3 linked regions of the Homo sapiens genome follow. The protein of the gene in region 1 purifies or fractionates together with the protein of each later gene. This does not show direct contact. Each region holds a gene or a part of one and is shown in the gene's direction. Other genes may lie near its edges. The genes, in order: CWC27, XRCC4 and ASAP1.

Evidence for each region.
Region 2: the proteins of CWC27 (region 1) and XRCC4 fractionate together in Homo sapiens (co-fractionation; one large-scale study listed by BioGRID). This does not show direct contact.
Region 3: the proteins of CWC27 (region 1) and ASAP1 fractionate together in Homo sapiens (co-fractionation; one large-scale study listed by BioGRID). This does not show direct contact.

Annotation. Positions count from the first base shown.
Region 1 is NC_000005.10:64,775,396-64,779,053, forward strand, and holds part of CWC27 (spliceosome-associated protein CWC27 homolog), read left to right. Parts: intron 1-3,658. UniProt on the Homo sapiens protein: As part of the spliceosome, plays a role in pre-mRNA splicing. Probable inactive PPIase with no peptidyl-prolyl cis-trans isomerase activity. As a component of the minor spliceosome, involved in the splicing of U12-type introns in pre-mRNAs.
Region 2 is NC_000005.10:83,199,430-83,203,087, forward strand, and holds part of XRCC4 (DNA repair protein XRCC4), read left to right. Parts: intron 1-3,658.
Region 3 is NC_000008.11:130,111,561-130,115,218, reverse strand, and holds part of ASAP1 (arf-GAP with SH3 domain, ANK repeat and PH domain-containing protein 1), read left to right. Parts: intron 1-2,896; coding exon 2,897-3,125; intron 3,126-3,658. UniProt on the Homo sapiens protein: Possesses phosphatidylinositol 4,5-bisphosphate-dependent GTPase-activating protein activity for ARF1 (ADP ribosylation factor 1) and ARF5 and a lesser activity towards ARF6.

The DNA of each region.
Region 1 (3,658 bases):
CTCAGGCAGCTTGGCTTCCTAGCTATCCAACTTTCTAGCTCATTGCACTAACCACATGGTTTTAGTTGGACATTATTTCCTAAGCATTTCCTTTCCGTTTCCACTTTCATACATGTCCTCATACTAGTTCCCCTTCTTTTGGTATGCTTTTTCTTCCCTTTTTTTACTGTTTAAGTCTACCCATTTTTAAATGTCTGTTCAAAATTCTAGTTTCTCCACACAGCCTTCCAGCTAGCATCCAGTGATATTATTATCAATGTCTCTAGTTTTTTTAGATTTGAGTCATAAAGTAACTATTTTTCTTTTTTTAAAATGCTGCAGAATTATACATCCACTGAAGTGTTTTTCCCTGCAGAGTATTCTCTTAGGGAAGTAAACCTTCCATTTTTAGAGCTTTTTGTTGGCTTCTAGAATACATTACATATGGTTTGGAATATCTCCAGCGGTGGCAAATCATTGTTCTTCTAAGTTATATTTGATTTTTAGAGACAGTTTTATTCAAGGTATCAGAAAACAACATTTTGGGTCAGAAGCAAGGTGTGAAAGAGAATCCAGTAGTATGGTATGATGAGATCTCTCTAAATAGACGTAATTATCAGGTGAAGATTTAAGAAATGAAAAATACCCAGATACCACCCCCTCTCCAAAAGAGAGAGGTGGGGAGGAGTGGAGCGAGAGAGAGAGAGAGAGAGAGAGAGAGAGAGAGAGAGAGAGAGAGAGAGAGAGAATGAAAGGACATCTGCAAAGACCATTATTAATAATTGCTGTGGCAGGCAGGAAGGAAATAGAGTCAGGTAGGTAGTTCAGTCAGAGAGGCCTCAAATATCTGTTAACCAAGTTGAGAAACACAGGAGACATGAAAAAGTCAGACTTGTTTCTGGTAAGAAGTTTTGAAGATTCAAAAGCTCAAGTTTTACAGAAGGAGAGTAAAATTACAAAAACATTAGAAAGAATGAATGGTAAATTGCAATCCATGACCAGGTGAATGGAAGAAGCAGAAAACATCTGGATACAATGTGACAGTGAAGAAGAAATGAGGTTCTTAAGTTGGGTGATGATAAAACTCAATTATTACAACAATTATTCCCCTATTTATAATAATGCAAGGAGAAAGAAGAAAGAATAGAAAAATAATTTTAAAAATAACCACAACAATTATCTTAATCAAATTCACCAATCCTCTTAATTGAATAGAGATAGAATTATTATTGGAAAGGCTAACATGAAGCCTAAGAAGACTGATTTAAACAAGGATACTCCTAAATAAGTTAAGTCAAGGTTTCAAAAATATAATCCAGAAAACCCCATTTTAGTTCTTTGCTTCTATGATTTAGACGAGTCATAATGTTTCTAGATCTTGAAACACTCATATTTATTTTTTTAAAGCATGGTTTCCAGAATTTAAAAGCAAATGAATAAAACATGAACAAGTAAGAGCGCAGTCTCAGATATGGCCCTCAACTAAAATGATGTTCATAGCCAAAGGATGGTTTATAGCCTTTAAAAAACCAAAGGATCTACATTATACAGACTTAATCTTAGATTTTTGGTCTTTGCAGCATAGTTAGGTGGACATTTAAAATGAGTGGAACTTTTAAAAACTTATCAATTAAAAAATAGAGCAAAAAAGATATAAAGGAATGAAAGGGAAGCTTATTAGCTTTGATAATTTCATTAGTTCCTCCAGTGTGAGGAAGGAGTATAATTTTATGTTTGTTTTATAGACAAGTGGGGAGCAGAGGGAGAAGTGGATAAGAAAATCAAAATGTTTAATACATTGTGTGACTACTAATCTCTTCACCTTTATTTCACATCATTCTTGTCTCATCATGGTCCACACTTCATTGCTTATCTTTTATTCTTTAATAATAGTTTACTAATTCTTTAGAGTGACAAATATAAGCATAAATATGCTATAAGTTAAAAGAAATTTCTTTACAAAACTAAAATATTTGTTTAAAAAAATACCAGATAGTGCAGACTGGTCGCAAGATGAGTGTTAGATAAAAAGTTATTAATGATAACATTTACATAGTTAAACACAAAACAGGATTCTAGAAGAAGAAACGTATAACTACTTTAAAGTGCAAGTATAAATTCCTCTATGAACTTGGGCAAGAAATATAATTAGTCAAAATATATGATAATGCCCATAGATTATTGTAGCCAGAAATAGAAACCATGTGACAAATACTAGAATGACAGCAATCAAATAGGAACTTTGTTTCATATTTAAGATACATTTAGGTATCTTTTTTCAATAGTGGAGAACATTCAGGAGGATATTATGAACGTGCATAATGAAATAATAAAGCTTTTTCAAAACACTTGTGATGATGCATAAAAATTTAAGAAAATCAAATAAACATTGCAAGCAGCAAAATATACAGTATTATAAACTATAAATACAACTATAAATGCATAGTTCAATAGTGATTACTAATAAATTACAAAGAAGTAGAAATAGTAGATATGGAAGATTTGTGGACATTGGAAATTCCAGCTATGTTAGAATACAAAGTTATAGTGTAGAGAGTATAGAAAATTTTTACTCATTTATATATAGTATAATAATTTCATGCATTCAACAGGAATATAACTAGGAAAATCATAAAGAAAATCTTAAAATAAAAAGCCAGCATCACTGAAATACTTAATGGGAAATAGGAAAAAGAAAGAAAATGGTGAAATTCTAAAATTTGAAAACACAAGTAATAAAGACCTCTTTCATGTCCTTTTTCCGTCACAGGTAACATATATCTGGGTTTTATGGATCTTGCTTCATAAGTAGTTCTTGAATCTGTGTATCTCAAGATAAGCCATAGTTATGTAATGACCTCAGGATAGTAGTTGCTTGCTTGCATTCTCTCACTGGCTCTCTGTCGCATGCACTTGCGCTGTCTCTTGCTTTCTTTCTCTCTCTCTCTCTCACTCCCCCTCTCTCTCCAGTCATGTCTCTTTCTAATATATTCACACTGGGTAAGAGTGACATTTTGAAAATGCAAATCTGATCATGTGCACAGTGCTCAAAAAGTATTGGTTGGCTGCTTATTATGGGTCTAGATGAATATTCATTATATGATATATACTGGGGTATATTTTATATTCAAATTTGAATATGAATTTGTAGCATTTGAGTGAAGATATTAGTTTGACCTCACATTTGTGTTGAACTTGAAAATGTGTAGTTTGCTTTCATATTATTTAATCTTCAGATTGACACTGTGCCTTAATTTATGTTATTAGATTTATGAGAAAATGGAGTTTAAGACTGTATAGCTAGCAAAAGGCAAGACTCAAACTCCTGACTGCTACATACAGTGTTAGTGTAACTGATGAAATGGTTACCTAGGAATATAGGAGAGATACTTTAAGACCTTTTGGTTTTTATAGTATCTATTTGTAACCAGAGGGAATTTGTCTGCACTAGGGAGCTCTTGTAAATGCAGCCCAACTGCCCTGCAATGGGAGAAGGGACTAAGCAAAAATCAGCTGGTCTTCCTTTCTACTTCTTATGTACTGTGTACTAAATACAGTTGTTAGAATACAGATTATAATTTTTAAAATATGCATTGTATATCCAGTTATACTTTGCAAATATAAATAATTATGAGGGTGTCTCCAAGACACTAAAATAGGAACTTTATAAATTATGTCA
Region 2 (3,658 bases), about 18 Mb from region 1:
AGCTTTCTTTGTCTTCCCAACTCTATTCAGACTTTCTTTTGACATACAACCCTGACCTGGGCCAGATATAATTTTGGCCAGAACTGATTATTAATTTAAGGATTACTGCACTGTGTCTAAATACCATATGTTCACATTTATATATCTATTATTTTATTTTGAGCTATCATTTAATCTGTTGTTTCATTTTTGGTGTTATTTCTGCATGAAATTGTTGTGTTTTTCCTCCTAGTTTGTTATTGTTTTGACATGTTATTCTTAGATTGTTTTCCCACCCAGAGACATTTTATTTTGAATATTCAGTATTTTTTTGTATTTTTTTATCCTTTTAATTTTTTAAAAAAAATTACTATTTTTTTGTCCAAGGTTTTAGATACCTCAGTGCTAGGTTGCTAATTAAATTTAGCATTATTGTTCTGTTTTCCTAGTTATTGTAGAAAGGATGAAGTATCATTAGACCTTTCTTGTTTGATGTTATTTGTGATTTCGTCCCAATTTGAGATTTGCCTGGATTTGATCCTTGGACTAGTGTGGTCTGATCTAGTTGTACATGGGCTTTTTGTTAGTGTCACCAGACTTAGCAGTGAATCCCATGTCTCTTCTCCACTAAATGTTCTCACCTAACAGTTCCTGTCCAATTTCTTGAGGCATAAGCTTGACAGGAAGCACGTAATGGAATGCATAGTAACATCATAATGCTCTAGGAGAGGATTGGCATTAAAAATTAGGTGGGAATGATACGACATACCTCTTAGTTACTGATTATTGGATAAAAGGATAGCATTCTCTGAGTCTTGAAAAATTAAAAGTTAAGAGTAAATTCATGTCATGCAACTGTTCACACTAATACTTTTTCTCCAGTCAGCTCCCGCTCCCCCACTTTTCTAGGAAGTGTTGTCCAGTTTGATGATCAGAAGTTTGGTTGCAAAAAAATCCTAAAGCTTTGCTGAAACCAAGCAAGGTTAACTCACATGATACCATTCATTCTATTGACTGTGTTTTCCTGTCACAGAAATGTTTCCTTTGACAACATAGATCTGATACTGGTTACTTAAGATTAACAATATTCTTTAGGAATATTATATGATATTTCATTTTCATATTTATTTTCACTTTGAATGTGTCATACCAAATGTTAATTTTAATAAAGGTTTGGGAATTAGCTTGTTAGTTGTTAAGTACACATCATCATTCAATCAAGAATTATTGAAGTGACTTATATGGAAATTAAATATGGACTTAAACCAGATAAATTACTAATTGGTTACCATTCCTAAAATTTAATATAAGAAATTGTAATATATTTGTTTATATGTTTTCACATATTGGTTTTTACTTTGCATATGTTTGAAGTATGTTATTATATACTCAGGTATTTCAGTAATATGTATGTTTTAAAGTTTTTTGTTGTGTTTTTTTGAAAATATTATAGGAAGATAAGAATATCATGCTTACGTAACACTGAATCTGAAATATAAATGTAGTGACATGTCTTTGCTTAAAATAAACTATCAATATTGCTAGCTCCTTTTCAATATTCAGTTTTTTTCTAACATCTTTCGTGTACTTCTTTCTCAGAGAACTTTGCTTAATGAAGGGAATACTGTTAGATTGATATTATTTGCCACAGTTTTTTTAAAAGCTGAAGATGAAAAACATTACTTTTACAATGGTGAATAGCTATTAAATGAGGGAAAAAATACAATATTCGGAATCACTGTTTTTCTGTTTCCTTATAAGATGTCAATATTAGCCATTCTCCTTGGCTCTTCTTCTTTGCTGGAGGGCTATAGTCAGCCATGGTGCCCAGCAGGAATGGCATAATCCTGAAGCCCCACTTTTGTAAGTACTGGCAGTGGCCTATAGCAATATGGTTCACCCAGCCTGCAAGGAAGAGCCACAGACATGGGACTGGGCAAGCCCACTGCATTGCCCGGTGCCTTGTATCTGGACCCACTGGCCCCTAGTAAAATGCCCCACATGAGGTTTCACACCAAGTACAAGCTGGTAGGGGCTTCAGCTTGGAAGAATTAAGGGTGGCCAGCATCCACAAGAAGATGGCCTGGACCATTGATTTCTCTATTGATCCAAGGAGGTGAGACAAGTCTACTGAGTCCCTGCAGGCCAATGTATAACAGCTGTAGGAGTACTGCTGGAAGCTTATCCTCCTTCTCTAGAAACCTCAGCCTCCGAGAAGAGAGACAGCTACACTGAAGAACTCAAATTGGCCATCACACTGACAGGACCGGTAATGTTCATATGAAATACCTATACGAAGGAGAAAGCCAGAGTCATCACCAAGGAGGAAGAGAACTTCAAGACTGCCACGTCAGGCCAGGTGCGGTGGCTCACGCCTGTAATCCCAGAACTTTGGGAGGCTGAGGCAGATGGATCACGAGCTCAGGAGTTCGAGACCAGTCTGACCAACATGGTGAAACCCTGTCTCTACTAAAAGTACAAAAATTAGCCAGGCATGGTGGCAGGTGCCTGTAATCTCAGCTACTCGGGAGGCTGAGGCAGGCGAATCGCTTGAAACCAGAAGGCAGAGGTTGTAGTGAGTGGAGATCGTGCCACTGCCCTCCAGCCTGGGCAACAACAGCGAAAGTCTGTCTCAAAAAAAAAAAAAACAAAAAACCTGCCATATCAATGCCTGGCTCTTTGGCCTCTGGGCAAAAAGGACCAAGGAAGCTGCAGAACAGGATATTGAAAAGAAAAACTAAAGCACTGTTGAGGCCTTGTAATAACTCTGCAGAAAAGCTGGGAAAACGAATAAACCACTGGGAAAATAAATAAACCAAAAAGATGTCCATATTAATTTATTCACTTTATTCGTTTGTCTAATAAGAACCTACCAAACATCTGTCGAATGCTAAACACTATGCTGGGCACTGAGGATACAGTGGCCAATAAAACACACATGCTGTCTGCTTTCGTGGAGTTCACATCTTTGGCAAAGACTGTGCTGTAAGAATTTGCTGAAATTGGTCCCAGAGAATATATTGCCATATTTTCCTTTTTATCCTATGATACGTTCTAATTCTTTGCATCTCTAGATAGGTAGATTGTTGAAAGTTTAAGGGCATGTATATAAAAGCTATCTAATTTGGACATTTGTGTTTCTAATTTCACTGAAATATATATGTGTGTGTCTATATATGTACACACACATATATATTACTACTGGTATATATGTGTGTGTGTGTTTATGTACAGTATAAAAATACTAGGATACCTGTAAAACAACAACAATGTAAATAAGCAGTATGAAACAACATTGAAAAGAATACATAAAATAATTTGTATTTGAATCAATAAAATAGGAATGTATTCATCATGTATGTGTATGCATATATTAAGTATATACAACCTCAGCTATTTTGCTTTCTTTATATATCTCTTGGGAGCTTAAAATAAATACAATCCCTTGTTAGCTCATTTGAGCAGTATGGGATGAATTAAAAACAATAGAGAATTTTGTATGTTTTGTCTTACGTATCTAAATTTGAAGATATGTAGTGTTTTACATTTGCTGTTTTATTAATCTCTCCTTGAATATATCAAGTAGAATACTTTCATTGGGTATGTGTATTGCATTTCTATATGTATTTGTGTGTGTGTGTGTGTGGTGCTCGCTTATAAGAATATAACTGGATAAGTC
Region 3 (3,658 bases), on another chromosome or scaffold:
TGAGGCACACCCACATCATGAAGGGTAGTTCCCTTGACTCGAAATCTACTCATTTAAATGGTAATTGCATCTAAAAAATTCCTTTACAGCAACATCTAGACTAGTATTTGACCAAACACCAGGACACTGTAGCCTGTTGACACATAAAATTAACCATGAAGCTAGGCATGGTGGCTCATGCCTATAATCCCAGCGCTTTGGGAGGCCAAGGCAGAACTATCGCTTGAGACCAGGAATTCGAGAGCAACCTAAGCAAAATGGTGAGACCCTGTCTCTACAAAGTAAATGGATCAATCAATAAAACGTGGTGGTGCTATTTGACAAGCTGAGGCAGGAGGATTGCTTGAGCCCAGGAGTTTGAGGCTGCAGTGAGCTATGATTGTACTACTGCACTCTTGACCTGAATGACAGAGCAAGACCCTATATCTTAAAAAAAAAAAAAAAAAAAATTAACCTTCAAAACAAGTAATTAGTAAGTAAATAACAGTTGTTATTTATTGAACATAATCATGCACTGTATAATAACATTTCAGTCCACAACACACTGCATACTCAATGGGGATCAATATAAGATTAAAACGGAGCTGAAAAATAGCCATCACCTAGTGATGCCATAGATGTCATAATACGGTAGTGCAACACATTCCTCAAATGGTTGTGGGATGCTGGTATAAACCAACCTACTGCACTGAGTTGTATAAAAATGTACAGTAATGTCCTAGGCCTTCACTCACACCCAGAGCAGCTTCCAGTCCTTCCAGCTCCATTTATGGAAAGTGTCCTACATAGATGTACCATTTTTTAATCTTATATAACATGTTTTTATTTTACCTCTTCTATGTTTAGATACACAAGTAATTACCATTGTGTTACAGTTGTTTACAATGTTTAGTATAGTAGCATGCTGTACAGGTTTGTAGCCTGGGAGCAATAGGCTATACCATATAGCCTAGGTGTGTAGTAGGCTCTCCCATCTAGGTTTGTGTAAGTATACTCTATGATGTTCGCACAAGAACGAAATCACCTAACACATTTCTCAGAATGTATGCCTGTCATTAAGGAATGATGTTCATTAAATATGGATTAGACAGATTTAAGCACTTACGTTATCTCAGATCATCTTTATTGAAAGTCCATAACTGAGTGCTGTGGCTCACACCTGTAATCCCAGCACTTTGGGAGGGTGAGACGGGTGGATGCCTTGAGCCCAGAAGCTTGAGACCAGCCTGGGCAACATGGCGAAACCCTCTCTCTACAAAAAATACAAAAATTAGCTGGCCGTGGTGGTGTGCGCCTGTGGTCCCAGCTGCCCGGGAGGCAGAGGTGGGAGAATCACCTGAGCCCAGGAACTCAAGGCTGTGATGAGCCAAGATTGTCCCATTGCACTCCAGCCTGGGTGTGGGTGTCTGAGTGAGACCCTGTCTCAGAGGAAAAAAAAAAAAAAGTACATAAGGGACATTGTTATCCCCATTTTACAGAAGAGAAAACTTACAAAGAGAATTTAGCAACTTGTCTAAAGTCTCCCAGCTAGTAAAGACAGTTTGGAGGATTAAACCCAGTTCTCACTGAGTTTTCCTTATAAGCAGTTAACTACCTCTGAAAGTTCATTCATGCATTAATTGATTGCCTATGTATTGGACATTTCCTGTATCACAGGCAGGATGTAAGGAATGGCCAAAGAGGTCCTCAAGCCTTAACAACTTTAAGAGGAAATAAATTATAATACAATGTGATAATCATTATAAGAGTATGGAAAAATTCCTGAGAGCTATTCAGAGGACCAAGCAGCTGCCTCAGTCTGCCTTCTCAAGGACATTGGAGATGGGTTTCTAAGGATAGGTGGAAGCTTGCCAGGGAAAGAAGTGGGGTGGAATGCATCATTCCAGAACACCACGTGCCAAGGGAAGGAGTCATGGTAGAGTCTGGATGTCGGAGGAATGGAGAGAAGCACTGTGTGTGAGATGCATTCACCTGGCTGGGTGGGGAGAGGCAGGCAGCTGCCTTGTAGAGTCAGGCAAACCAGATCAGGATGGCTTTGTGGGCAAGGTTTGGCCTTTGGGTTTTTGTGCAAGCAGTCAGAAGCCCACAGAGGTTTATTGTCTAAAGAGCAAGGTTTCCCACCAGCTCTGGCTGCAGTGTGGAGAATGGACTGGAGGAAGGAAACTGGAGAAGGGGCCATTCTGGAGGCTAGAGCTGCAGTGGGAGCTGGTGAGCACCTGTACTAGGAGGGGCTTCAAGGGATATTTCCAAGGGGAATGCAGGAACCAGGGACTCCAGGTGACACTGAGGTTTCTAACCTGGGCAGTTGAGTGGATCCTAATGCCATCACCACAAGCGCAAATACCAGAGATACCTCATGGGCCATTGGTTTGGAACACAAGTCACTGGGGTTGTATTTACAGATCTGTAAGTAATTATTGTGTAGCGGGCAGTGGGTGTGAATCCGTTTACTTTGCAGGGGGATATAAAATGAGAAAAGAGGCAAAGAAAGAACTTCAACGTTAAAGGGTTGAGCAGGGAACAAAACTTAATGTAGCAAATTAGAAATAGGTGGAAATACTATTCAAATGTTGCTGAAAAAGTCCTGCATTCTGAAGGTGTTTGCTTATTAAAAGTTAAATCTACCTGTGACCTTACTGTGCTTCTGACACTGCTGCTGATCCTAACCAGTGTTTCACTAGTGTGATTATTCATAGTGGTGAACGATATGAAAGTGTGGTATCTAGATCCTTCCCTTGTACTGTGTCAGCATCATGAGGCTCATTGTGGCTGACCTCATAAAGCTCAGAGAGCCACAGGAACCCAGATTCCCACCTGAGCCCGCCCTGCGGAGGCCCTCTGTACACATGAAGGGTGGTCCTTGATTATTATCTCACCTTCTTATTTCATCTGCCAGCCAAGCCCTATCAAGAAAGAGCGCTCACCCAGACCTCAGAGCTTCTGCCACTCCTCCAGCATCTCCCCCCAGGACAAGCTGGCACTGCCAGGATTCAGCACTCCAAGGGACAAACAGCGGCTCTCCTATGGAGCCTTCACCAACCAGATCTTCGTTTCCACAAGCACAGACTCGCCCACATCACCAACCACGGAGGCTCCCCCTCTGCCTCCTAGGAACGCCGGGAAAGGTATGGGCTTTGAGAAGGGCTTGTGACTCCATCCTCGAAGGGCTTGTGACTCCATCCTCAGAGCTGATAGTCTAGCCAGCTTTGAGGTAAGAATTGCAAGGTACATTTGAGTGGCGCGGATCGTGTTGTCAGGAGCAGCTTGAAATAGGGACCATGCCATTTGCCAGGTACCAAGAGCAGGACAGGCAGTGCTGTGGGCTCTCTTTGTGCATTATTTGTGTTAACCTTACAACAATCCTGTGAAGTATGTGCTTTTGTGCCCATTTTACAGAAGAGGAAACTAAGGCTCAATGAGATACACTGACCAGCCCAAGGTCACACCACTGGTAAGAGGTAAAGTTGAGATTCAATCTGAGGTCCACGTGGCTCCAGAACCTGTACTTTTTATAATGTGGAGTGGAGTTTCAGTTCTCTGGAAAGTTACTTTTCTCTACATTAAAATGCCACTCTTTTGAAGACGCTAGTAATAATAGTGGTAGTTAATAGTTATGGAGCACTTGCCTTATGAGAGGCTCTACGCCTAGTACTTCTTT